7 linked regions of the Homo sapiens genome follow. The protein of the gene in region 1 purifies or fractionates together with the protein of each later gene. This does not show direct contact. Each region holds a gene or a part of one and is shown in the gene's direction. Other genes may lie near its edges. The genes, in order: BRD1, MAIP1, LIMA1, TOR1AIP2, SCML1, RNH1 and ZZEF1.

Region 1 (3,091 bases):
GGGGCGTGGGGGTGGTCTGAGGAGGCTCACACAGCTGGGGTGGGGAGGCGGGGGGGGGTGCCAGTGACAGGTGGGGTTGTTTATGGGTGTGAGCCTCACAATGACCTCAGCGGGTCCTTCTCGTGCAGATCATCGACCCCAAGATGCCCCGTGTGCCTGGCCACCACAACGGCGTCACCATCCCGGCCCCACCCCTGGACGTGCTGAAGATTGGGGAGCACATGCAGACCAAGTCTGATGAGAAGCTGTTCCTCGTTCTCTTTTTTGATAATAAGAGAAGTTGGTGAGTTGAGAGGCCTTAGACTCCGGGGACCGGCTGGGGTGGTTGGGGGCCGTGGGCTCGGTGACCTGAGTGTCCCTGTGGTGAGCAGCGTCTTTGTCTGCTGGGCCCTGGCACAGCTAAAGTCGGAGGTGAGTGCTCCGCTGTTTGCCTGGTGGAGAAGGGCACTGCCCAGCCCCCTCGCCGGGACTGTGGGACGGGCACTGAGCACCGGGTCTGTCTCTGCCCGATGGCTTCCTCTCCCTCTCGCCTGAGCCCCATTGGTCTGGACTGTCTCTTCCCTACTCCTTACCCATGTGTCCGCTCCAGTGTTGGGGGTCCCTCTGCTGTGCTCCCGGACCCCTGTACTGCAGGACATGGCCCCTGCCCGGGCCTGGCCTCTGGCCCTGTTCTTAGAGCCTTCTGTCCCAGCATCATCCAGCTCTGCTCAGACATCCACCCCATCACAGGAGGCTCCCCCTGTGCCCTGAGCTGCTTTTCCCCAGAGCGTCTGGGACCCTCATGTGCCAGGGTTTAGACCCCAAGATCCCTCTGTGCAGGACACGCTGGCAGCACATGCCTCTGGGAGGAGCTGTGGCCCCGGCTGTGCCCTGCGCACGTGGCCCGGGCAGGTGCTTCCTGGTTCCCCGTGGAGCTGGCTGCACTTGGGACCTGGCGCAGGGGCTCGGGGCCACCTGCCTATGGTGTGCCTGGAGCAGGACTGGCAGCACAGGCATCCCTACCGTCTTTCTCTTCCTTGCCTCGACCTCTGCCTCTTTGGCCACGTGGCCACTGCTTCTTGTCAGGCCTTGAGCGAGGCCCACACCTTGTCCATCCGAGGGCCCCTTTGATGGGGTCTCCCCAACCACCGGCCTCTGCTCCAGGGCCCACCCTGACTCTGGGCTTGGTGTGTGCATGTCTTGTCACTAAGCAGGCACTGGGAAACGTTTTGGAGGTGGAGGAGGAGGTGATGGTTTTTATGCCTTACTTAGCTCCCCGTATCCCCAAGTCGGGGAGGGGAAGGGAGGGGTGCACTCCTGGCCTCGGGCCTGTCCCTGCACGGGGCCCAGCTGTCTTGGTGGTGCTGAGCAGGGCCCCTTTCTATCGGAGGGCAGTGAATTTGTTAGATGATTACATGGAGCCTGCTGAAATACCATGTGCAAGCAATGATTTTCCGCTTGTTTTTCCTTTTAAAAAGGCAGTGGCTTCCTAAGTCCAAAATGGTTCCCCTTGGTATTGACGAAACTATAGACAAGTTAAAGATGATGGAAGGGAGGAATTCCAGCATCCGGAAGGCCGTGCGGATCGCTTTTGACCGCGCCATGAACCACCTGAGCCGCGTCCACGGGGAGCCGACCAGCGACCTCAGTGACATTGACTGACGGCCCGGCCGCCAGCGCGGGTCTTGTCCATAGTGTTGATAAGCTGTACATGTTTGTATATTGTTCAAAACTTAACTTATTCTGATTTTTAGTTATAGCTCTTTAATTCTTTTTCCCCGGGGAGGGGGGAGGTTTTATTTCCAAGTTTTCTAGGAACCCATCTCCGTCTGGGCGCTGTGAGTGGGGTGGGCACGTCCGGGCAGCCCAGTGCGTCTGTCGCACGTCCCCAGGCCGTGCTGCTGGCGTCACTTTCTTTGATATGTAGCTTTTTCTTAAAGACTTTTGAATGTTTAATAATTTTGTAAATCATGCTCTTTACACAGAGTACCACTTATTTAATAAGACGGGATGTAAATTTACAATGACAAATGTGTATTTTAAGAAAGAAAATGACATTATTTTGAATGGTACTTTGTGGAAAGAGGGGAGAATAAAGTTATGCTGTGTACATCACTTGCAGATCACCAAAAACACTCCGCTGCCCGTGACCGCCGGTGGGTGTGTCCCCGCTCCCGTCGTCCCGCCCACCTCAAACCCCGCAGGTGTGCCTCCCAGCGGATTATTTATTGTAGAAAGTGTATTCATTTGCTTTATAATGAAAAATACATTTGCAAAGGTATATTGATATGCATTTTTATACAGGCACATAAAAATTCAACTTGGCTTGGGAGCAGAATGCATTGCATTGTATAAATGACTCTGGCCTGTGTGTACTTTGATTTTATAACTTGTAATCTTTTGTTTACAATGAGGGGCTTTCTGTAACTTGTTTTAATTTAGAACACTTTGGTAGCAATAGAAACTTTGGATACATTTTTGTATGGTACCTGTGATGTATATAGAATTAGTACTTTATTTTTATTTTTAAGAGGTAAAGCATTATGTTGGGGAAAGTAGGGTGGGTTTCCAAATTTGCATTTTTTATATTAAAAATAAAGTCAAGATTTGGACGGTGTGGCCATTTTATTCCTACAGCCCTAGACGGCTAGGTGAGCCCCAAGGACGGGTGGGGTGCTGGCTGCAGGGGGCGGGGACACGCCTTTATCTTGAAAACTGTCATGGGATGGCATTATTTGTTATTTCACCTGATCATATTTTTATTTTAAAACTTCAGTTACATAAAAGTTTTAAATGCTTTTTTTAAGCCTACACCGTTTGTAACATCTCCATAGAAACTTGGAAATCAAGTCTTCCTTAGATAGTTGCTGTCCTGCATCTGGCAGGTGCTTCCTATCTGTCGTGGCTCTCCTTCCCACAGCCAGCCCCGCCCGGCAGGCCCCTCCCCACCACGAGCAGCTGGTGGCCCCCAGGATCACTCACCGCCCACGCAGAAAGGAAGCCCACGCAGAAAGGAAGCGGGTGCAGGAGCCAGGTGGGGACAGGCCGTGGAGCACTCAGGGCTACCACCGAGAAGCCCAGCTAATGGCGGGTGCAGTTTGCACCCCTTCTC
Region 2 (3,018 bases), on another chromosome or scaffold:
TGTTCTTATCCCTGTCAAAATTCTTCAACTTGTCAGTTTACTTGTCCTTTTCCCATGTAGACTGAAAGTTCCCTGAAGACAGGTAGGATCTTAACTCACAGTTTGCTTTCTCATTGCTAGCAGTGAGGAGAATTGCAGTTGGGTTTTTCCCTCCTTGAAAATGGAATTTCATACTTCAAAGTTAGGATCTACTGTTTTAGACCACATAAACTAATGACCTTCTCTCCCACTTTCCCAAACCTACATTATCTCCCATACTGAGATTCAGACTACAGCCCAGATTTCCAGACTCCCAATGCAGTCTCGACTGTTCTCCTTTCCAACTGCTATCTATGCATGATTAAGAGGTAGGTCATATAACTGCCAAATGATTGTTTACTTCATCATTTTAAAAAGAAATATAAAGGAGGATTTTTATTGAGACATCTAGATTGTACACCACACACTATCATTTCCCGGTCCTGAGAGTGGATCCAGAATTAAAGGTCAAGTCACTTACTGCTATATATGTGGGAAGGCCATATATGAAAAGTCAACCAAGAGTCATGCCTTGATAAATTAATATTTGATGTTGTTTATCACTATTACCATAAAATAGTCTGTATTACACTTAGCCATTTAAATATGAACATGGTATGGTATTTTGAAATAATAATCCCCACACTTCCCTTAATATTTTTTTCAAGGCTTTTGCTCATGTATCCAAGTTGCTGTCACAGTGTAAATTTGATCTGTTGGAAGAACTTGTGGCCAAAGAGGTAAAGTATATTTTACATTTTGCTTTAAAAATAAATGCTATTCTCTTGCAATAGAATGATGCACATTTTCCTTATTTATGCTTAAAAATAGTGTGTGTGCCAGCATCCAAAGTAGAGTCTGTGTATCTGTTCTTATGGGTACTTTGGGTCATATAAAAGCATGGAATAACTCCTGCCACTTAAGGCATAATGAAGTAATCATGATGTCTTCCAATTGCTCTTATATGGAATGTTCTGTTAGGAATTACCTACTTGAATAATGAGATACATTTCAGCCTTGCTTTTGAGGATGAGTAAATACGGTAGTAAATTTAAAAATAGGTTTGGAAAAATGTATTCCATGATAAAGATCACTTTTTGAAAGTTTTCAAAAATTGTATCAGTGAACTAATGGCTTGCTTTTTTCAAACTTAGGTGCTACATGCATTGAAAGAAAAGGTTACTTCACTACCTGACAACCATAAAAATGCCCTTGCTGCTAACATAGATGAAATTGTATTTACATCAACAGGAGACATCTCCATTTACTATGATGAGAAAGGTAATACCAGAGCATAGTCAACTTGAAATGATCCATAATTGTCCAGATAAGCTAAACTAGTGGATAATCACAAAATAGTAGAGTTTTGTCAGGACAAGTATTTATAGAACTTCAAAGAAAATGTTATATCCATTCTTTAAAGACCTACTTCTGAAAGAGTTGAGATATGGTCATCATTTCTTAAGCCTTTCTATCTAGAACTTTTTTCTGCTACTATTTTATTCACAGTAGAGAACATCATCACTTACATTGATGAAAATAGTTTGAGTGGCTCCCACGTCTCAAATAGAAAATATTTATGTTTCAGATTTCCTAACTTGAAGGAAACAATTGAGTATTTTAAAGCTGCACTTTATATGGAAGGAATGAGGGGTAAAAGAAAATCAAATTAGATATTGTCAGCTAAAGACAATTTGAAAAGGTTAACTGCAGAACTCCCAAATTGGATCTATTTGAGAATAATGAAAAAAGTTGGTAGGAAATTTAGTGGTTATCTGGTTCTTCTTGTCTGAGGCATACATTTTCCCTATAGCATTCCTGATAATTCACTGTTTGTTCCTGATACATACAAAGTTGGCCCTCTGTATCTGGGGGTTTCGCATCCACAGATTTAACCAATCTAGGGTAAAAAATATTAAAAAAAAATAGTTGCATCTGTACTTGAACATGTGCAGTTTTTTTCTTGTCATTATTCCTCAATAATACAGTATAACAACTATTTACATTAGCATTTACATTGTGTTAGGTATTATAAATAATCTAGAGATGATTTAAAGTATACTGGAGGATGTGTGTTATGCAAATACTACACCATTTTATATAAAGGACTTGAGCATCTGTGGATTTTGGTATCCACAGGGGGGTCCTGGAACCAATCCTCCGTGGATTTTGAGGGATGACTCTATTTGCATATGTATTATGTGCCAGCCACACAGGAAATGGAGCCTCTGCTTATACACTTCCCAAGATGGAAGAAAAAGACTCTTAGTGATGATAAAATTTTTCATGCACACATTATTTTGAAATATTTGTAAAGATATTTTTAGTGATAAATATTTTCCGCTTCCCTAATATTTCAAATTGCATCTCAGCACCATGGTCACTAACTAATTTTTGCATCAGGAGTTTGTCAGAATCACCAGGCACAGTAAGGTGAATTGGGTAGAATAGGAAGCCTTTACTCTTTCTGGCAGTTGAAGTTAAGATAGTTACTGAGCAGCAAAAAATATTTTTTTTCTCCTCATTTTTGGTTTGACAACAGGTATCTGTCAGGAGATTATTATAATCTTAGAAAATGCCTGGCCAGATGTGGTGGCTCACACTTGTAATCCTAGCATTTTGGGAGGCTGAGGCAGGTGGATCACTTGAGCTCAAGAGTTCAAGACCAGCCTGGGCAACATGGCAAGACCCAGTCTCTACTGAAAATATGAAAAAATAGCCGGGCATGGTGGTGCGTGCCTGTGGTCCCATCTACTTAGGAGGCTGAGGTGGGAGGATCGCTTGAGCCTGGGAGGCGGAAGTTGCAGTGAGCCGATACTGCGCCACTGCACCCCAGCCCGGGTGACAGAGTGAGACTCTGTGTCAAAAAAAGAGAAAGAAAAAGAAAATGCCACTAATTGAAAATAATCCATGTAGTATACTTAGTAAAGTACGTGCTCAGTTAAGTAGTAGTTTTATTACTGAGATACAGAGAAGAGGGCAAGTATGCCATAAACCCTA
Region 3 (3,500 bases), on another chromosome or scaffold:
GCTTTACTGAAATGTCTTTCCTAATTCCCAAAGCCAAATGCTCTTCCTCTCCTTGAAATTTATCCCCTTTAGAATCTGTCTTGTGTTTACTTGGCACTTGAATCAAACTTCTTTCTTCTGTGTGTGATAACATTTTCTCCTAATCCCTGCACTCCCCCCCCCGACCCCTTCCCCCATCCCCTGCTCCTAACATTTTTTATGTGGGTCGTGACTTGTCTAAGCCATTCTTTGTAATCCAGACGTAGCTCCACCTATCCTTGGTGGCTGCTACATTTAGAGCAGCCACACAGTTTGGGAAGGGAATATCAAGAGAGCCTCTTGGCTTTAAAGAGTCAGCTGATAGAATTGTAGCAGGTTTAGTGCTCCATGAGAATTGACTGACCAGCTAAGGGAGCCCTTAGACAAAGTAAATTCTAGGGTCCATCTCAAGACAGTGCTAACTCATCGCTGCCCATGCTAAAGTTGTCTTTTTGTTTTTCCTAGAAGTTTCAGGCACCTGCAAGAGAGACCTGCGTGGAATGTCAGAAGACAGTCTATCCAATGGAGCGTCTCTTGGCCAACCAGCAGGTGTTTCACATCAGCTGCTTCCGTTGCTCCTATTGCAACAACAAACTCAGGTAAGTCAGCCCAAAACAAGCCATCTGTCTATAACTGGAACTCTAGAGGGAGTCTTTGGCTTTTAGAGCACTGGTGCTAAAAGCTACTGTGCTAATGATATTCTGTTGAAGGCTCTTGAATAAAGTAAAAAGCATCATTTAGTGACAAGTCTTTCATACCAAATAATGATGGTGTTTGGAACTTCTTGGTGTATTGATATGTTAATTTACATGTTAGGACCGAAGCTTAAATAATATGAGTTGCAGGTAAACCCCCCTGTGACCTAATTTAATAGAATGTTTTCCCTTGGTATCACAGAATCACAAAGTTAAGAAATCTCAAGAGGTTACTTGTTTAAGCCCTTACTTGTCTTAACCACTGTATAAATGATAATAATGGCAATAATAATAGCCCCTGGAGAGCATGTCTTTTTCTCTATGTTGCCTCACTTTATTTCTGAGAAAATAGTTGTTACATATCATTTCTTCCAAGTAACTCAAAGTGCAAATATAAATGTGACAAATCGGGGAAACATTCCAAATTAACTCATTTTAATCATAGAGTCTTACAGAAGGAAGTAACCAAGATGTCACTTTCTCCAGCTTTCCTTTCTGAGCAATCCTTCCTAAAATACTCTTGAAAGATGTTTTGGCATCTGTGTGACATTTCTAGCTATTAGATAGCTCTAGCTAGACAGCTTCTCCAAACATGCAGCCAAAGTGTACCTCAGTCACTTCCACTCATTAGTTCTTCTGCTGCCCACTGTGTTAATTTTTTTCTCCAAAGCACCTTTTTTTTTTTTTTTTTTTTTGGATACAGAGTCTCACTCTGTTGCCCAGGGTGGAGTGCAGTGGCGTGATCTCAGCTCACTGCAACCTCTACCTCCTGAGTTCAAGCGATTCTCCTGCCTCAGCCTCCCAAGTAGCTGGGACTACAGGCGCCCGCCACCACACCCAGCTAATTTTTTGTATTTTTAGTAGAGAAGGGGTTTCACCATGTTAGCCAGGATGGTCTTGATCTCCTGACCTCGTGATCCACCCGCCTCGGCCTCCCAAAGTGCTGAGATTATAGGTGTGAGCCACTGTGCCTGGCTTAAAGCACCTTATTTCTTTTGTGGAAGTGCTGCCGTTTTATACCCCCTTTAACATTTGTCACTCTTCAGAATGGTTCGTAACTTAAGGGAAAAAACTTTAAAAAGATAAAACTTATCATCCTGCAAGAGACACCAAATCTCCTAAAGGCTTGTCTAGGACTGACATTAGGGAAAAACTACCTCCTGTCAACTCCTCACCATTCTTCTATTAATCAAGCTTATATCTAGGTGTGGATATAAGGATCACACCTGTAATCCTAGCATTTTGGGAGTGCCCAGGTAGGAGGATCACTTGATGCCAGAAGTTCAAGACTAGCCTGGGTAACATAGAGAGACCCCATCTGGTTTTTCTTTTTGAGATGGAGTCTCACTCTGTTGCCCAGGCTGGAGTGCAGTGGTGTGATCCTGGCTCACTGCAACCTTTGTCTCCCAGGTTCAAGCGATTCTCATGCCTCAGTCTCCTGAGTAGCTGGGATTACAGGCGGGCACCACCACGCCCAGCTAATTTCTTTCTTTTTTTTTTTTTTTCCGGAGATGGAGTCTTGCTCTGTCGCCCAGGCTGGAGTGCAGTGGGATGATGTCAGCTCACTGCAACCTCCACCTCCCAGGTTCAAGCAATTCTCCTGCCTCAGCCTCCCGAGTGGTTGGGACTACAGGCGTGTGCAACATGCCTGGCTAATTTTTGTATTTTTCATAGAGATGAGGTTTCACCATGTTAGCCACGCTGGTCTTGAACTCCTGACCTCAGTCAGTCTGCCCTCCTCGGCCTCCCAAAGTGCTGGGATTACAGGTGTGAGCAACCACGCCTGGCCAATTTTTGTATTTCTTAGTAGAGATGGGGTTTCACCATGTTGGTCAGGCTGGTCTCAAACTTCTGACCTCAAGTGATCTGCCCACCTCGGCCTCCCAAAGTGCTGGGACTGCACCTGGCCGGAGATCCCATCTCTATGAAAAATTTGGGGAGGCTGAGACTGAGGCTGGAGGATCACTTGAGCCCTGGAGGTCAAGGCTGCAGTGAGCTATGATCATACCATTGCACTCCAGCCTGGGTGACAGAGCAAGACCTCCACTCAAAAAAAAAAACAACAAAAAATGGCTGGGTGCAGTTGCTCATGCCTGTAATCCCAGCACTTTGGGAGGCCGAGGTGGGCAGATCACGAGGTCAGGAGATTGAGACCATCCTGGCTAACAAGGTGAAACCCCGTCTCTACTAAAAATACAAAATATTAGTCAGGTGTGGTGGCGAGTGCCTGTAGTCCCAGCTACTCGGGAGGCTGAGGCAGGAGAATGGCGTGAACCTGGGAGGCGGAGCTTGCAGTGAGCTGAGATCGTGTCACTGCACTCCAGCCTGGGTGACAGAGCGAGACTCTGTCTCAAAAAAAAACAAAAATGGCTGGGCGTGGTGGCTCACGCCTGTAATCCCAGCCCTTTGGGAGGCCGAGGCGGGCAGATCACGAGGTCAAGAGATCGAGACTATCCTGGCCAACATGGTGAAACCCCGTCTCTACTAAAAATACAAAAATTTGCCGTGCATGGTGGCACACACCTGTAGTCCCAACTACTCAGGAGGCTGAGGTAGGAGAATCGCTTGAACCCAGGAGGCAGAGGTTGCAGTGAGCTGAGATCATGCCACTGCACTCCAGCCTGGCGACAGAGCGAGACTCTAACAAAACAAAACAATACAAAAATTAGCCAGGCGTGGTGGCGCACTCCTGTAATCCCAGCTACTCAGGAGGCTGAGGCAGGAGAATTGCTTAAACTTGGGAGGCGGAGGTTGCAGTGAGCCAAGATTGTGCAACTGCACTCCAGC
Region 4 (3,500 bases), on another chromosome or scaffold:
AAAAGTAACAGTATTTACAGTTTTTTGTTTGTTTCTTTTTTGAGATAGGATCTCTCTCTCTTATCCAGGCTGGAGTGCAGTGGCACAATCACGGCTCACTGCATCCTTGACCTCCCAGTCTCAAGTGATCCTCCTACCTCAGCCTTCCAAGTAGCTGAGACTACAGGCACACACCACCATACCTGACTAATTTTTGTATTTTTTGTATGAACAAGGTCTCGATATGTTGCCTAGGCTGGTCTCTGAACCGTTGGGCTCAAGCAGTCCTCTCCTGCCTGAACCTCCTAAAAGGCTGGGATTATAGGCATGAGCCACCATACCTGACTACAGTATATTTTGAAGTACTGTATAAAGGTACTTTATAACTATTTTTTCTTTTCTTTTTCTTTTGAGACAAGGACTTGCTGTGTTGCCCAGGCTGGAGTATAGTGGCACTATCATGGCTTACTGCAAACTTGAACTCCTGAGCTCAAGCGATCCTCCCACCTCAGTCTCCCAAATAACTGAGACTGCAGGCACACACTGCCACACCCAGCTACTTTATAGTGAACACCAGAGTCATCTGGCAAATCTGTTAAAACATAAATTCCTGTAGGAGGCTCTCAGAGATTCTGGTCTAGTGGGTCTAGGTTGGGGCCTGAATTTGTACTTTTAGCAAGCTCCCAGGTAATGCTAGTGATTCCCAGCTAGTGAGTTTAATATAGTAAGGAAACAAACACTTGTTGTCCATATTGTTGACTTGATAGTTATACCCCAGTAGCACTGAGCATTCAGATCTTGGTTTTTAAAGGAACTAGGACTTTTTAGAGAAGTGGCTGATTTAGTGCGGGAGCAGAGAAAATACAAGATGAGCCTGAAAAATCTTATGGTGCTTGAAAGTAAGGAAATGCTACAAAAAGTTAGGGACCTTGTCGAAAGGACCCAAGAGCCAACTTGAAGGAGTTCCTGGTATCCAGGTTGGAACAATTTGAGCAATAAAATGAATAATGATAGTATTGGACTTTAACCCATAAAATAAAATGAGTTCATACTGATATTGCTGAGTGAATAAATAAGTAGGGGAGAAGGGACAACTCTAACAGAAGAATTCCATTTAATAAACATAGAAGGAAAGAAGGAAATACAAAACCACCATTAGGGAAACAGTACCATAGTAGTTGTTGCAGACAAAATCCAGTTAGAGGAAAATCAGAATATTTACATAGTCTCAAAGTATCTCTCCCAGGATAATTATTAACTACAAAGAAAAAATAGTAATCCGACAGTGGAGGTACTATGTTAACAAAGTGATCAAGGTTAACATCACCAGTAATGAGACAAGGACATCATGAACCCAAAGAGGCAGTGAGAAGGACACAGCGGCATTTCTGTGACGTTTGTTATTCTTGCCAAAAATGCATAATCTTTTTATCTTTCTAATCATGATAAAATATTGTAAAACTCTAAACTGAGGAACATTCTACAAAATAACTGGCCAGGTCAGGTGCAGAGGCTCATGTCTGTAATCCCAGCATTTTGGGAAGCCAAGGCAAGAGGATCGCTTGAGCCCAGGAGTTCGAGACCAGCCTAGGCAACATAGCAAGACCACGTGTCTATTTTTAAAAACAAAAAACACCGAACCCAAAATAACTGACCAGTATTCTTCAAAAGTGTCAAGGTCACAAAGACAAGAAAGGGTCACAAATGACAGGTAAAGACTGAGGAACTGTCATAGACTAGACACTAAGGAAAAATAACAACTAAAAGAAATCGTGAAATCTGAATATGGCCTCTAGTTAATTGAATTGTGCCAATGTTGATTTCTTGTTTTCGATAACTATGCTTTAATTATGTAAGATGCTAGATGAAGGATATAATGGAACTGTGTGCTATTTTTGCAACTTTTCTGTAAGTCTAAAATTAGTTCAAAATAAAAAGTTTAATAAAAATATGTTGACTTGAAGTAGATACTAAAAGTGATTAGGGAAGTTGAACTAAACCTGGCAGTCAGTTGTGCCACCCACTGTCAGAAATCTTAGCAAACTCTTAGATCCTTCGTGCATAGCTTAATACCTCTACGTGGTCAACCGAAACTAGAGATACAAGTCAAAGGAGTTGGGAGGGAGTATGAAAAAGGGTAAGTAGGAAAGGAAGGCTTTCTGCACTCAGAAAATATCTGTAGAATTTGATCTGCGCCAGGCATTCAATTCCTGTGTAAAAAACAATTCCCTAAGGAAGTAGAGTGCTTTTTGTTCCGAGGCTAGTACTTTTTCAAACTTCTTTCAAAAATCTAGAATAAGTCACCAGTTAGTGAAAATACAGAGAAACGAAAAATTGTGAAAATAATAATGCTGGGATATTATGACAGTGGATATGGTACAGAGGAGTGGGCAAGACTTAGAAATTTAGTTTTAGACAGACAATAAATAGCTAGCACAAGTTATAGAAATACCTAAGCTTGGCACCAGATCTGACTGTTGAAAGTTGTGTATTAGCCTTAAAGGTTTGGCTGCTGGTGTTTTGAAGTGAAATTGTAGACAGAATTTGGACCATGGGCTTTTGGAGCATTAGAGCAACATAGATAGAAATGTACCAGTAGGTTTCCAAACCAGTTGTTCTCCTTTATGGCCATGCCCCTCAAAAAGTATGGTAGCAATGCATACACACCTGTTTCGTTTGTCAGTTCCTGGGGCAAGAGAGAGGAGAACATTCTGCAGCTATTTTCTAACCTTGGGTAATATTTTTTATTTGGCTTCTCTGTTCTAAAGAGGGAACAGTGTGTGTACTAAATAGTACTGAAGATTGTCATCCATATGCCTTCTCTCAGTGATCTCAAGATTGCCAAATTAAAAGTAGTTTCTCACAAAACAAGTTGACTTTTTTCCAGGAGCATTTTATTTTCAACAAAAAATTATTTTAGATTATATGAATTCAAAAAGAAGAATGATTCCTTTTTTCATACTCCTTAATCTCTCATTATCTAAGGTAGTTGTGAAATAGGAAACTCTTAAGATTTCACTTTGTGTATGAAACTTATTGGAGAAACCATCTCATACAAAAAAAGTTATGATTATTGATTAGCCTTGACTGTAGTACCCCCTAGAAGAAAATATTTAAAATGGGAATTCAAGAGAGTTTAAAGCATTTATACTTTTTCTATGTGCCTATCTTGATTTTATGTATCATATGAGGAATTGGTTGAGGCTGAAGTCTAAGGGATAAATTGCCTGGAAAAGTCATTCCAATCCAGACTCAGTCTGAAACTTAATTATTATGCTACCACAAAAAAGAATAAGGGAATTTTTATCTATTGAAGGCAGATTTGAACTTACTAACATACATTCAGGAAATAGCAAAGAACAAGATAGACTATTTAGAGAAGTTAATTAAAAAGTTGCCATGGTTAGTTGATGTAAATTTCAGTGGATTAAATAGAACTACATTTTCTATTTTGGTGTGAAAGTACTATTTTCTTTTCTAAATTTTCTTTTAATAAAGTTTCAGGAAGGATCTTAAATTTA
Region 5 (3,500 bases), on another chromosome or scaffold:
GCATAGCTAAAACTTTCTGAAGTATGAGCAGTTAAACTGTCTCATATCTCAGTTATTTTTTAAACATATAAACCTTTGACCAAAATCTCTATTACTATGCAATTAAACATGAAAGAGGAATTAAATAAAATGTTAGTTACTTCTGACCTAGTTCAGCAGAAAATAATCTTGTTTTCTTCACAATGCACATTAGCACTTAAGCCACGAGAGACAGGAATCTAAAAAGTAAAGCGATACTAAAAATAACCTTATTGAATACGTGGGGAAGATTTGATAAAAGTACTAATTTGGTTCTTAAAGATAATGGGGTTGTTATTGAGATTCATTGATTAAAAGGAACAAATTTAAGCAATTATAAAACTGTAAATTTGGAGAATTTCCATTATATTTTGCTAGTAAAATTAACCTAATCTAGATAGATTAAGAGAGAAATTCCTTGAAATACTTGAAGAGAGTCATAGGTTAGGTTAGATTAACCTAATTTTACCCAAGTGACAGATCTTTTGCCATATTTGCCTGTGGCCAAAGAAGACTTGGTTTACTTAGTCTGTTTTGTGATCTTTGAAACTTTAATGTAACTTCTGAACCAGCTTTTGCTATTTAGGGGAGGTCAGATGGGACACTCTTGTGTAGGCATCCCCACATCATCTTTATATAGGCTTTCACTAGATTTTACAGTTGGAGTCTTGACTCCTTGCTAGGAACATCACAGAAGGTTCCAACAAAGAGAGCATTCCTCCTTACCTAACATCTCTTCTTTCAGGATAATGATCAGGTCGAGTGTGATTTGTCTTTTTTTTCTTTTCCCCCTCTCCATTGAAGTTACAAGGTCACCAGTTGAAAATGACGGTTACATAGAGGAAGGAAGCATCACTAAGCACCCTTCAACCTGGTCGGTGGAAGCAGTGGTCCTATTTCTAAAACAAACAGATCCTCTTGCATTATGCCCTCTTGTCGACCTCTTCAGAAGCCATGTAATGTATCTTTTGATCCTGTTTTCCTGCTGTAATGCCTTTGAATGACCTCTGTGCAGGTCTTTCAGTTGGATACTGTGTGAATGGTGGGAGAACCCTATTAGCTGATTTTTCCATATATGAGAAAGCTTATTTTGCCCAAGGTTAGCCTTAAATGGTAGGCTAATGGTCTGTTCTTTAAATGGGTGTAGAAGTGCCTAAAATACAAACTGCCTCAGCTTCTTAAGACATGATGATTCAGCATGGCCACTCAGGTGTACCTCCCCTTTGTAATGACAGATACAAAGATCCTCCCCCTATCTGCTCCCAGCTGGGCACCAGGACCACGAGGAGGAGGGGGTAACCACAAGCTATAACAGGGTGGCCTTCGTTTTATATAACCAGTGATTCAACAACTGATTCCATTTGCCTCGATTATTGATGATTTGTAATGCTAATACCCTCTTGCTATTATCAGACCATTTACAAAGTAATATCCTAGGCCGAAGTTTTGTAAGTTCTAGTTTCTTTAATTTTGAGTTTTACTTAGTAGAAAAAGTATAGAAGGTGCCAAACAAAGGTTGTACTATAAGGGATTTCAGACCTTTTCAGATAGTGTTAAATGAGTAAATAAAATTTTATTTTTTAACTGGAACATATAAAACCAAATCATATGCTTCAGCAGCATAAGTTGATCAATTAAGATAAGGAATTTTAGGAGAATGCTTTGTGACTATGTTTTATTTATTCAGATATTTTCACAGTGTGTCCTAACAAAATTAGTAGCCACATATCTGATTTTTAATATAGTAAGAAAATTGGTGATTAGTTTTAGCATCTAATTAGTTTCAGACAACTAATTGGCATTCATCATAAAGACAACATTGTATAGACATTTACAGTTTGCACTGATGTTGACGTACTCATCTTCCCAGCCCTTCTCAGAAAGTTAATGAACATCTGAAATTCATTTTTACTATTCATAGTCTTTACTATTTTGTCATGGATGTGTAGTATTTTATTCAACATACAGTATATATTTAAAATTAAGTTTGACACAGTTTATTTTTTAAGATATTATGTTAAATTTCCTTTTTCTCAGAACTTGAAATGAGTTTATACATTACCAAACGGTGCTTCACTGTACAAGTTATATTTTTAATAGTTTTCATAAAGTAGACGCATATTCAGAGAATATACATCTGCAATGAGCTGCTCTCTAGTTTGCTTTACATGTTCTCATAAAGAACTAACCATTCTGATGAAAATATGGAAGCATTATTAATTATCGTTAAGTTTCTTCTCTCCATAGGAAATTGACGGGAAGGCTCTGCTCCTACTCACGAGTGACGTGTTGCTGAAGCACTTGGGGGTGAAGCTGGGAACGGCTGTGAAGCTATGCTACTACATTGACCGACTTAAACAAGGAAAATGCTTTGAAAATTGAAAAAATCCTTGTGCAAATTTAGATTGGGCCAACTTCTAGAGGCACCAATGCCTTCTTAGTGTGGAATCATTTTTCTGCCCTTTAGTCGTTTTTGTTTTGTAGAAAGTATCTCTCAAAATATATTATAGCTAGAATTGTAGAACTATGTTATAGTCCAGTCTACTTCTTTAAAAACCATTTAAACTGCTAGATAGTATTAGAATAGTCCAATAGAAAATTCATTCTTTATAGGTCTTTAAAAATTACTTTTATTATATTGTTTACAAATATATTTCATGCAAGAAACAGAAAAAAAAAAAAACCCTTTGATTCTGGTTCATCTCGATACAGAGAACCAAAACAGCTAAGAGAGGTATTATCAGGGTTGACAACTCCTATGATTGAATCTATGGGAATTATTCCTCAGAAGAGAATTTAAAGGTGTACCCATATATATCTCTTTCTGGAGTATTTTATCTGTCTGATGTTGCAGTATTCTACAAGTTTCCAGAAAGAGAATAGCCATATAAATTATTTTCCTTTCTGCTATTATTTCTCTATATGTTTTATTTATTCAGATTTAGAGTAAAAAATAAGCATATAAACTTTTATTATGTGCTCTTAACAGTTTTAAGATAAACTATAGGATAGATAGAATGGTTATTTTATGCAAGAAATATTGTACCGCAAGGGTGGTTTGGATGAAGTCTGACTACTTTTTTTCAAACAAACTATTATATTAAAACTGTCATATTTTGGCTAAGTTTGGACCTATAACTACACTTTCATTGTTTGCATCTCTCTATGAAGATACGTCTGTCCAAACTTTTAAAAGGCATAACTGTATTTTATGTGTTTATTCTTTATATAGATAGTATTTTATATTTTATTCTCACCCGAAGTATTCACACAATCTTTTTAAAAAAAATTTGAAATGGCATTTTGTATTGCCACAGAGGTAGGATGAGCCATATATTAGTGAAATGTTTTATTTTGTAAAATATAAATGGATTATTTGCCATCATTAGTACCTCTCAACTTACTTTTTAGAGGACAAGAAACAATCTGTAGATTGGTTTCCATACAGGGAAGTTCTCCGTCCTATGCAATGTTTCTAATTA
Region 6 (3,500 bases), on another chromosome or scaffold:
CTGAGCGTGGCCCGTGTCTCCCTAGAGGGTGGCCCCGCGCCCCCGTCACGTCGGAACATAAGGACCTGAATTGGCCTCCAGACGGCCCCTCCCATGTGGCTCCCCAGGGTGGGGCCCAGGCCTTGGGTGCTGCGGAGACCTCCCTCCGTAAGGTTGAGAAAGTCTGGTCTCCGGATAAGGGACCGTTAGGGCCTCTGTTCAGATCCCTGCCTCAACCAAAGCAGGCTGCCAGCTGGTGGTAGTGGGTTCCTGAATGTGCTTTTAGCTTTGGCTGTGTAGGGAGCCAGGGACTTCTCCAGTCACAGAGAAGGGCGTTTACTCCCGCATTTTCATGGGGTCCTCAGTGGGATCCGTGACCCACAGAGATTCAGAAGGGCCTTTCTGGGATACAACAGGGTCTGGCCAAGCCTGAGGGGTAGGGACGGGGCTACTCCCGCAGCGCTAGTTGCAGATGGTCACGGGAGCACTGGCCACCCTGAGCTCCCACCAAGCTTTCCCAGGAGGAGGACACCCTGGGGCCACCTTTCATCTGGCTGCAGAGGACACAGGAGTGTCAGGCTGGATTTGGGGAGCGTGTGCACCCTGGGCAGCCCCCTGAGGCTCTCCTTCCACCCGCCCTCCCGCCCACAGTGCCTCCTGATGACTAGATTCTGGAGTCAGAATTTGGGTGACCACACCCTGGTCGGTTTTGCTCACGTGCTTCGGGTCGGTTGGATTCAGTTCCTCCATGTGGGGCCGTGGGATGTCACCACCCTTTGCCACTGTCCTTGCAGGCCGGGCGCCCAGGCGTGTGGACCCGAGCCCAGCCTTGCGTCTTTCCTCCCAGTTGGTACCAGGGGCCTCTTGCCTCCACTCATGCAGAGTGGACCAGCCGCCTCTGAAGCAGCCCCGGGGAGAGGAGTGCCAGGCACACAGACTCAGGAAGCTGGGGGTGTCAGGGCACCAGGAGCCTCTCAAGCGGTCCTGTTGGCCGTCTTTCTGAAGGGCAGCTGGGGTTGCATCATTTCCCCAAGTGGATCCTGCCAACTTTCTGGGGCTTCTGGATGAGAGCCCTCTCCCCACCCCACCCACCCCTCCCCGCATTGTGGCATCAGTGCTGCTGCTTCCAGGGAGCCTTCCTGGCCATCCAAGCCTCCTCTCCAGGTTCCTGCCCTGCTGTAGTCCCCAGGCCAGTGCTTGGCAGGTGCTCAGGGAATGTATCCACCAACCAAGGTTTGGGGTGGCTGTCTCTGCCTGACCACTTTCCCCAGGCCCCTGGCGGGTACCTGAGCTGTGCTCTCAGGGCCTCAGGAACCTCCTTCCATATTCAGGGCCTGTGCCTGGGGAGGCTTCAGGGTGTAGCAGCTGTGCCCATCCCAGGCTGACCCACCCAGCTTGCCTGGTAGCCCAGCCTCTGGGCTAGTGTGCCGTGGGGCAGGGGATGTGCTGTAGCCTGGTGCAGAGTCCCCAACCCCAGAAGGGGGCCATGGAAGCTGACACCCCAAGTGGCCGCCCCCCTGCTCTGTCTTGCTTCGGACACTGTGGCCGGGTCCAGGATCCTGGCATCCTGGGAGGTCTCTGGCTTTGTGGGCAGCCTGCCTGGCCCGCACAGTCTGCCTGTCCTGAGGGTGAGACACAGGTCAAGCCCACAGACCCCCTTGCTCCCCTGCTGGGGCCTCCAGGCTCACAGACCACCCCACCCTACCCTGTCCTTGCCCAAGCAAATGAGAGGCAGGGGCTTCCCGGGCTGCTGCTGTCCCGCCCTCTGTGGGGCAGGAGGAGGTGCCCACAGAGGCTGGGTGGTGATAGCCAGGAGATGGGCTGGCATCTGCATTACCCAAGCTCTGCTGCCCATGGTGGCCTTTCTGGGGGTGGGTGCTGGTCCCTGCCCCCTGCCCCACCCCTGATGTCTGCTCCAGAGACAAAGGTGGGGAGGGTGCTGAAGAGGAAGTGTTTGCCCAGGGAGAGGCTGCGGCTCCTCCTGAAACATCAGCCCTGTGGGTCCTGTTTGCAGAATCTCCGGCCTGTGAAACTGTGAGGGGATTCGGCCAAGACGTCCTCTTCCCTCTGCCTCCCACCCAGGCCACTCTTCACCTCCACCATGAGCCTGGACATCCAGAGCCTGGACATCCAGTGTGAGGAGCTGAGCGACGCTAGATGGGCCGAGCTCCTCCCTCTGCTCCAGCAGTGCCAAGTGGTCAGGTACGCTTGCTCTCGGGGTGGCCTTGGGGTGCTGGTGGGGCAGGCTGGCGGGTGGCGGCTCCCTCTGAAGGGTGCATTGCTCTGGAACGCCTTGTTTGTGGACATGAAGTATGAATTCTGTGCAGCTACCACGTGCATGAGATGTGATTCTTGTGTTTCTTTTTGACAATTTAGGAATGTAAAACCCATTCCAGGCTCATGCAGCATGGGCTGAGGTGGGCGGGCCGAGGTGGGCGGCCACTGGCCAGTGGGTCTCTGGCTCCGGTGTCTCAGCTCCTCTCCCTCCCTTGGAGACACGAGGGCAGGACACAGCTTGGGTCCCCTCCGTGAGCCTCCATGGGGCGCTGCTTGTCCCTGCCAAGCTGGGGGCTGGGAGTCCTCGGCCCTCGAGGTCCTCACAAACCCAGCAGCTTCACAAGCAGGACACGAGTGCCTGGGTGGGCCGCATCTTTTCTCTTTTTACCTGGTGATTTCAAGTAGTGTCAGGTTTGCGGAGGAGTTACGAGGACCGGACGGGGCTCCCTGGTGAGGTGGTCCTGTGTACCTGCGGACGCTAGCTCTGGCCCAGCACCTCCAGGCAGGGTCTGCTTTTCCGCCCTGCCCTTTTCGTCTTCCTCACTGGTCCAGGATTGCGTGGCCCTCAGCCCTCTGTCTCCTTAGCCCTCTCCCGTCTGTGACTGTCCCCTCGTCTCTCTGGGTTCTTGGTGGTCTGAGGGTCTGGCCAGGCTCCTGCAGGACGTCCTCTGTTGGGGCTTGTCTGGTGGTTTCTTGTGGTTGAAGTCCTACAGTTTTGGCAGGAATGCAGGGAGATGCCGTGGGGCCTGCCAGGAGCGTCCTGTCACAGGCGCCGTCTGCCACCCTCTCCACTGTGACGCCACTGCCTTTCCTCCTGTGACTGATCAGTGCCTTCGAGAGATACTTTAAATTCTTTTTATTTTTAGAGACAGGGCATTGCTCTGTCACCCAGGCTGGAGTGGCTCCCTCATGGCTTATGCGGCCTCAACCTCCTGGGCTCAAGTGATCCTCCTGCCTCAGCCTCCCGAGTAGCTGGGATTATGGGCATGCGCCACCACGCCCGGCTACTTTTGTATTTTTAGTAAAGACGGGGTTTCTCCATGTTGGTCAGGTTGGTCTTGAACTCCCGACCTCAGGTGATCTGCCTGCCTCGGCCTCCCAAAGTGCTGGGATTACAGGCGTGAGCCACCGCGCCTGGCCACGTGCGAGCATCTTAAACAAAACTTTCATGGAACAGTTCCTCCTTTTTGTTTCATTTCTGAAATGTCTTGTGTGACTTGCCTTGCTGTCTTCTGGGCCCACTG
Region 7 (3,500 bases), on another chromosome or scaffold:
CATTTTCCACATTCCAACAAGCAAGAAAGGGAAAAGGGAAGGAGAAGGAAGAAGCCATGCCCACTCTCTTACGGGCATAGCTTACATCCCACAGGCCAAAATTCAGTCACATGGCCGCAGTTACCTGCAGGACAGGCTGGGAAAGATTCTTTTTCCGTGGCCATATATTCAGCTAAAACTCAGGGCTTAATTATTGAGGAAGGGGAGAGAAAACATTGAGTTATATTTGGCAGTCTTTGATTCACATAGCTAGGTCATACAGTTCTGTGAGTGAGGCTTAGCCAAGGTTTAAAAACCTGATTGTGATAATCTCACAGTGGCCACCGTCTCTCATGATAATCTTGTGATGGCTGCTCTGTCTGTAAGAACTAGTAAGTTAGGACTAGCCAAAGAAGATAAGATTTAGCCATGCATTTGATTCTGTGCTTTAAGAATGTCTATCCTTAGACTTGAATAAGTATATACTTTTGTGCATACTTACACAGTTAATTCTGCGTTGTTAATCTACGTCTAAGCTTTTGAGAATATACTGCTGTATTTTACTGCAAGATGAAGGGCTTGTGAAGTAATGTCTTTATAGTAGCAACTAAAATGACAAGTTGTTTCCGTCATTCGTTTTTATAAGAGCTAACATGGTAAAACAGATAGCCACGGGTGCGCATGGTTTATTATAATGCTGAGAGTTTCCAAGTGTTACATGTTTCTTCTTTGGCTTCCCAACTTACGCTGCCATTGGTGTCCACGCAGCTGTCTTGCTTTCACATTCCTGTGACCTCAGTTATTTGAGGAGGTGTTATAAAGAAGTTCTTGGAGTTGGACCATGGACCAAAGTCTGAAACATTATCATTTTATAGTACAACACACCTTTTCTCATGGTAGGTGTGGTCCAGGGAGAAGGTGCGCATGGTTTATTATAATGCTGAGAGTTTCCAAGTGTTACATGTTTCTTCTTTGGCTTCCTAACTTAGCTGCCATTGGTGTCCACGCAGCTGTCTTGCTTTCACATTCCTGTGACCTCAGTTACTTGAGGAGGTGTTATAAAGAAGTTCTTGGAGTTGGACCATGGACCAAAGTCTGAAACATTATCATTTTATAGTACAACACACCTTTTCTCATGGTAGGTGTGGTCCAGGGAGAAGGGACTCTCTCAGTTTGCTCACAAGGAGCAATATTTAATTAACTGCCATGTAGAGGGGAAATAGAATTAAAATTAAGTTCTTATTTCACATCAGAGGTTATAGATTAGATATTTATGCTCTTAGAGTATGATTCTAGAAAATCTTCTAGGGCAGAAAAACGTGCTGAGTACAGGATAACAGATGGCCCTAAAGTGAAATTTCATATGAATAGGTTGTGTTTTATTAATTTGCCACATAGTTTTGGTGCCTACTTTGTGAAATTCGTGGGGTGGTAAGCTCTAAGGGAAGGGCCTTTTTGATTCATCTCTGTTCATCGTCTTAGCACAGTCCTGGGTGGTTGCCAGTGCCCAGGTGCTTTGGGAGACTGTAGAAGTTGTAGTCCACACACACTCAAACCTCATATTTTATATTCAGTCTGTAACCTTTTAATATTTCTTGACATTGAAGGAAACGGTTAAATATGATTTTTGTGAAAACTTTAAAAGGTTCTTAGTCACTTTCGGGTTTACAGGAAGTTTGTAGAAAAGCCCTGTGCTCGTCTTCATATTATTATGTGAAAAGTATTAATCAACTAATTTAGAATGGCTTTGAGCCCAGGAACTGTGCCGTAGGAATCTGCAGATGTGATTATCTGCCCTTTTAAGACTATTGACTGTAAGAGCTGTGTGTGTGCACCATAAAGCAACAGCAGGCTGCCAGCTTTTCTTGCCTTCAGCCGGGAGCCCTCAGCTCTCCACTACCCAAGGGACCAAATATGTATTTGTCTGAATCGGTTGAAGCCCACACATCAGCCTAACTCTCTCAGCTAATTTACCTTTCCCCCACCTGCACTAGCCCTGTGCTAGCTAGTGGGATGCCTGCTTTGTTCCTAACTCCCTTACCTAATTTATCTTCCCCCTACCCCCGCATGAGCCCTGTGCTGGCTAGTGGGACACCTCCTTTGTCCTGTGTATGGACCTTGCTATCAGTTCTTGAAGATTCCCCACCTTGGCACTGTCACCTGGTCAGCACCACATCTTCTGTGGCATGATTCAGATAGTGTCTCCATAATGGTGTTTTCAGCCCTACAGCTGAGGCTCCTGTTACCTGTTCTGTACAGATCCTTTGGCACTTAGAGCATACTGTCTGGCCTTGCTGTGCAACTAGGCTGTGAGGCCGCCAGCCACCTGCCTGCACTACCATTGTACACAGGAGGTCTTTGGTAAGGGATGGCTGGCTGTGGATGGTGATGAGGCAGTACAGGAAAGATCCTTGGTGAGTGGAGATTATTATTATTATTATTTTGAGACAGAGTCTCTGTTGCCCAGGCTGGAGTGCAGTGGCACAATCTTGGCTCACTGCAAGCTCCGCCTCCCAGGTTCACACCATTCTCCTGCCTCAGCCTCCTGAGTAGCTGGGACTACAGGCGCCTGCCACCACGCCCGGCTAATTTTTTGTGTTTTTTAGTAAGAGACGGGGTTTCACCGTGTTAGCCAGGATGGTCTCGATCTCCTGACCTTGTGATCCGCCCACCTCGGCCTCCCAAAGTGCTGGGATTACAGGCATGAGCCATCGCACCTGGCCGAGTGGAGATTATTTTTGCTTACTTTGGCTTTGTGTGTTTTGCTATGGGGGAGTTAATGGTATTGGTTTCTTTGGAGAAATTCATGACCTAGGAGAGCTATGGAGGAAGGGCCACAGCTCTTTTGTCTCTCCCTGATTTCCAAAATACCACCTCACCATGGTACTGCCTTGCTTTAGAAACTTCAGTGGCTCCCCATTGCCTTCAGAATCACATCTGAATGGTGGAGCAGCCTTTACACTCTTATACCTTCTACCCTTGTCTCCCAGTGCTCTTTAAGCAGCCACTTTATGGTCCCGTTTCCCATGTATGTGGGAATTTTGTCCTTTGCTCTCCTTCTCCTCCTGTCTGCTCCCTGCTCCATCCTAAGCCCACTCCAGTTTCAGGGACCACAGAGAAGCAGTTACCAGCAGCATGGAGTTTGAGAAAGGCTTCATCACAACAAGGCTTGAGAGGCTGGAAGAATTCGCCTGGCAAAGGAAGGAAGGGATTTGCCGTATGAAAGGCACAGCATATGCAGATATACTGGAGTGAGAGGGCATGGCACGTTTTGGGAATGATCCTTTAGCACCTAGCCTACAGTCTGAACCAGCTGGGACCTTGGTACTCATTGCCTGCAAGCTGCCCCCTCTCTGCCCCCGAAAAGGGACCCCTTTCATAGCAACCTGGACGGGTGTGTAATTAGCCTGTAATGGCATCAGCGGGTTTGCCGTGTTATGAGTCTGCTCATTCTGCTGTTCTTCAGACTGAGCTTGGGAACTGGGCCTCGAGCCAGCCTGCTTGTGAGCAAGTTCTAGTTC

Evidence for each region.
Region 2: the proteins of BRD1 (region 1) and MAIP1 purify together in Homo sapiens (affinity purification with mass spectrometry, with the first as the bait; one large-scale study listed by BioGRID). This does not show direct contact.
Region 3: the proteins of BRD1 (region 1) and LIMA1 purify together in Homo sapiens (affinity purification with mass spectrometry; one large-scale study listed by BioGRID and IntAct). This does not show direct contact.
Region 4: the proteins of BRD1 (region 1) and TOR1AIP2 purify together in Homo sapiens (affinity purification with mass spectrometry, with the first as the bait; one large-scale study listed by BioGRID). This does not show direct contact.
Region 5: the proteins of BRD1 (region 1) and SCML1 purify together in Homo sapiens (affinity purification with mass spectrometry, with the first as the bait; one large-scale study listed by BioGRID). This does not show direct contact.
Region 6: the proteins of BRD1 (region 1) and RNH1 purify together in Homo sapiens (affinity purification with mass spectrometry, with the first as the bait; one large-scale study listed by BioGRID). This does not show direct contact.
Region 7: the proteins of BRD1 (region 1) and ZZEF1 purify together in Homo sapiens (affinity purification with mass spectrometry; 2 studies listed by BioGRID and IntAct, with this or other methods). This does not show direct contact.

What each region holds. Positions count from the first base shown.
Region 1 is NC_000022.11:49,772,783-49,775,873, reverse strand, and holds the end of BRD1 (bromodomain-containing protein 1), read left to right. Parts: intron 1-128; coding exon 129-283; intron 284-1,457; coding exon 1,458-1,641; 3' UTR 1,642-2,591; downstream 2,592-3,091. UniProt on the Homo sapiens protein: Scaffold subunit of various histone acetyltransferase (HAT) complexes, such as the MOZ/MORF and HBO1 complexes, that acts as a regulator of hematopoiesis.
Region 2 is NC_000002.12:199,958,582-199,961,599, forward strand, and holds part of MAIP1 (m-AAA protease-interacting protein 1, mitochondrial isoform 1 precursor), read left to right. Parts: intron 1-686; coding exon 687-758; intron 759-1,172; coding exon 1,173-1,299; intron 1,300-3,018. UniProt on the Homo sapiens protein: Promotes sorting of SMDT1/EMRE in mitochondria by ensuring its maturation.
Region 3 is NC_000012.12:50,179,021-50,182,520, reverse strand, and holds part of LIMA1 (LIM domain and actin-binding protein 1), read left to right. Parts: intron 1-483; coding exon 484-617; intron 618-3,500. UniProt on the Homo sapiens protein: Actin-binding protein involved in actin cytoskeleton regulation and dynamics. Increases the number and size of actin stress fibers and inhibits membrane ruffling. Inhibits actin filament depolymerization.
Region 4 is NC_000001.11:179,871,304-179,874,803, reverse strand, and holds part of TOR1AIP2 (torsin-1A-interacting protein 2), read left to right. Parts: intron 1-3,500. UniProt on the Homo sapiens protein: Required for endoplasmic reticulum integrity. Regulates the distribution of TOR1A between the endoplasmic reticulum and the nuclear envelope as well as induces TOR1A, TOR1B and TOR3A ATPase activity.
Region 5 is NC_000023.11:17,750,993-17,754,492, forward strand, and holds part of SCML1 (sex comb on midleg-like protein 1), read left to right. Parts: intron 1-822; coding exon 823-974; intron 975-2,265; coding exon 2,266-2,400; 3' UTR 2,401-3,500. UniProt on the Homo sapiens protein: Putative Polycomb group (PcG) protein. PcG proteins act by forming multiprotein complexes, which are required to maintain the transcriptionally repressive state of homeotic genes throughout development.
Region 6 is NC_000011.10:500,743-504,242, reverse strand, and holds part of RNH1 (ribonuclease inhibitor), read left to right. Parts: intron 1-1,993; 5' UTR 1,994-2,080; coding exon 2,081-2,181; intron 2,182-3,500. UniProt on the Homo sapiens protein: Ribonuclease inhibitor which inhibits RNASE1, RNASE2 and angiogenin (ANG). May play a role in redox homeostasis. Required to inhibit the cytotoxic tRNA ribonuclease activity of ANG in the cytoplasm in absence of stress.
Region 7 is NC_000017.11:4,136,531-4,140,030, reverse strand, and holds part of ZZEF1 (zinc finger ZZ-type and EF-hand domain-containing protein 1), read left to right. Parts: intron 1-3,500. UniProt on the Homo sapiens protein: Histone H3 reader which may act as a transcriptional coactivator for KLF6 and KLF9 transcription factors.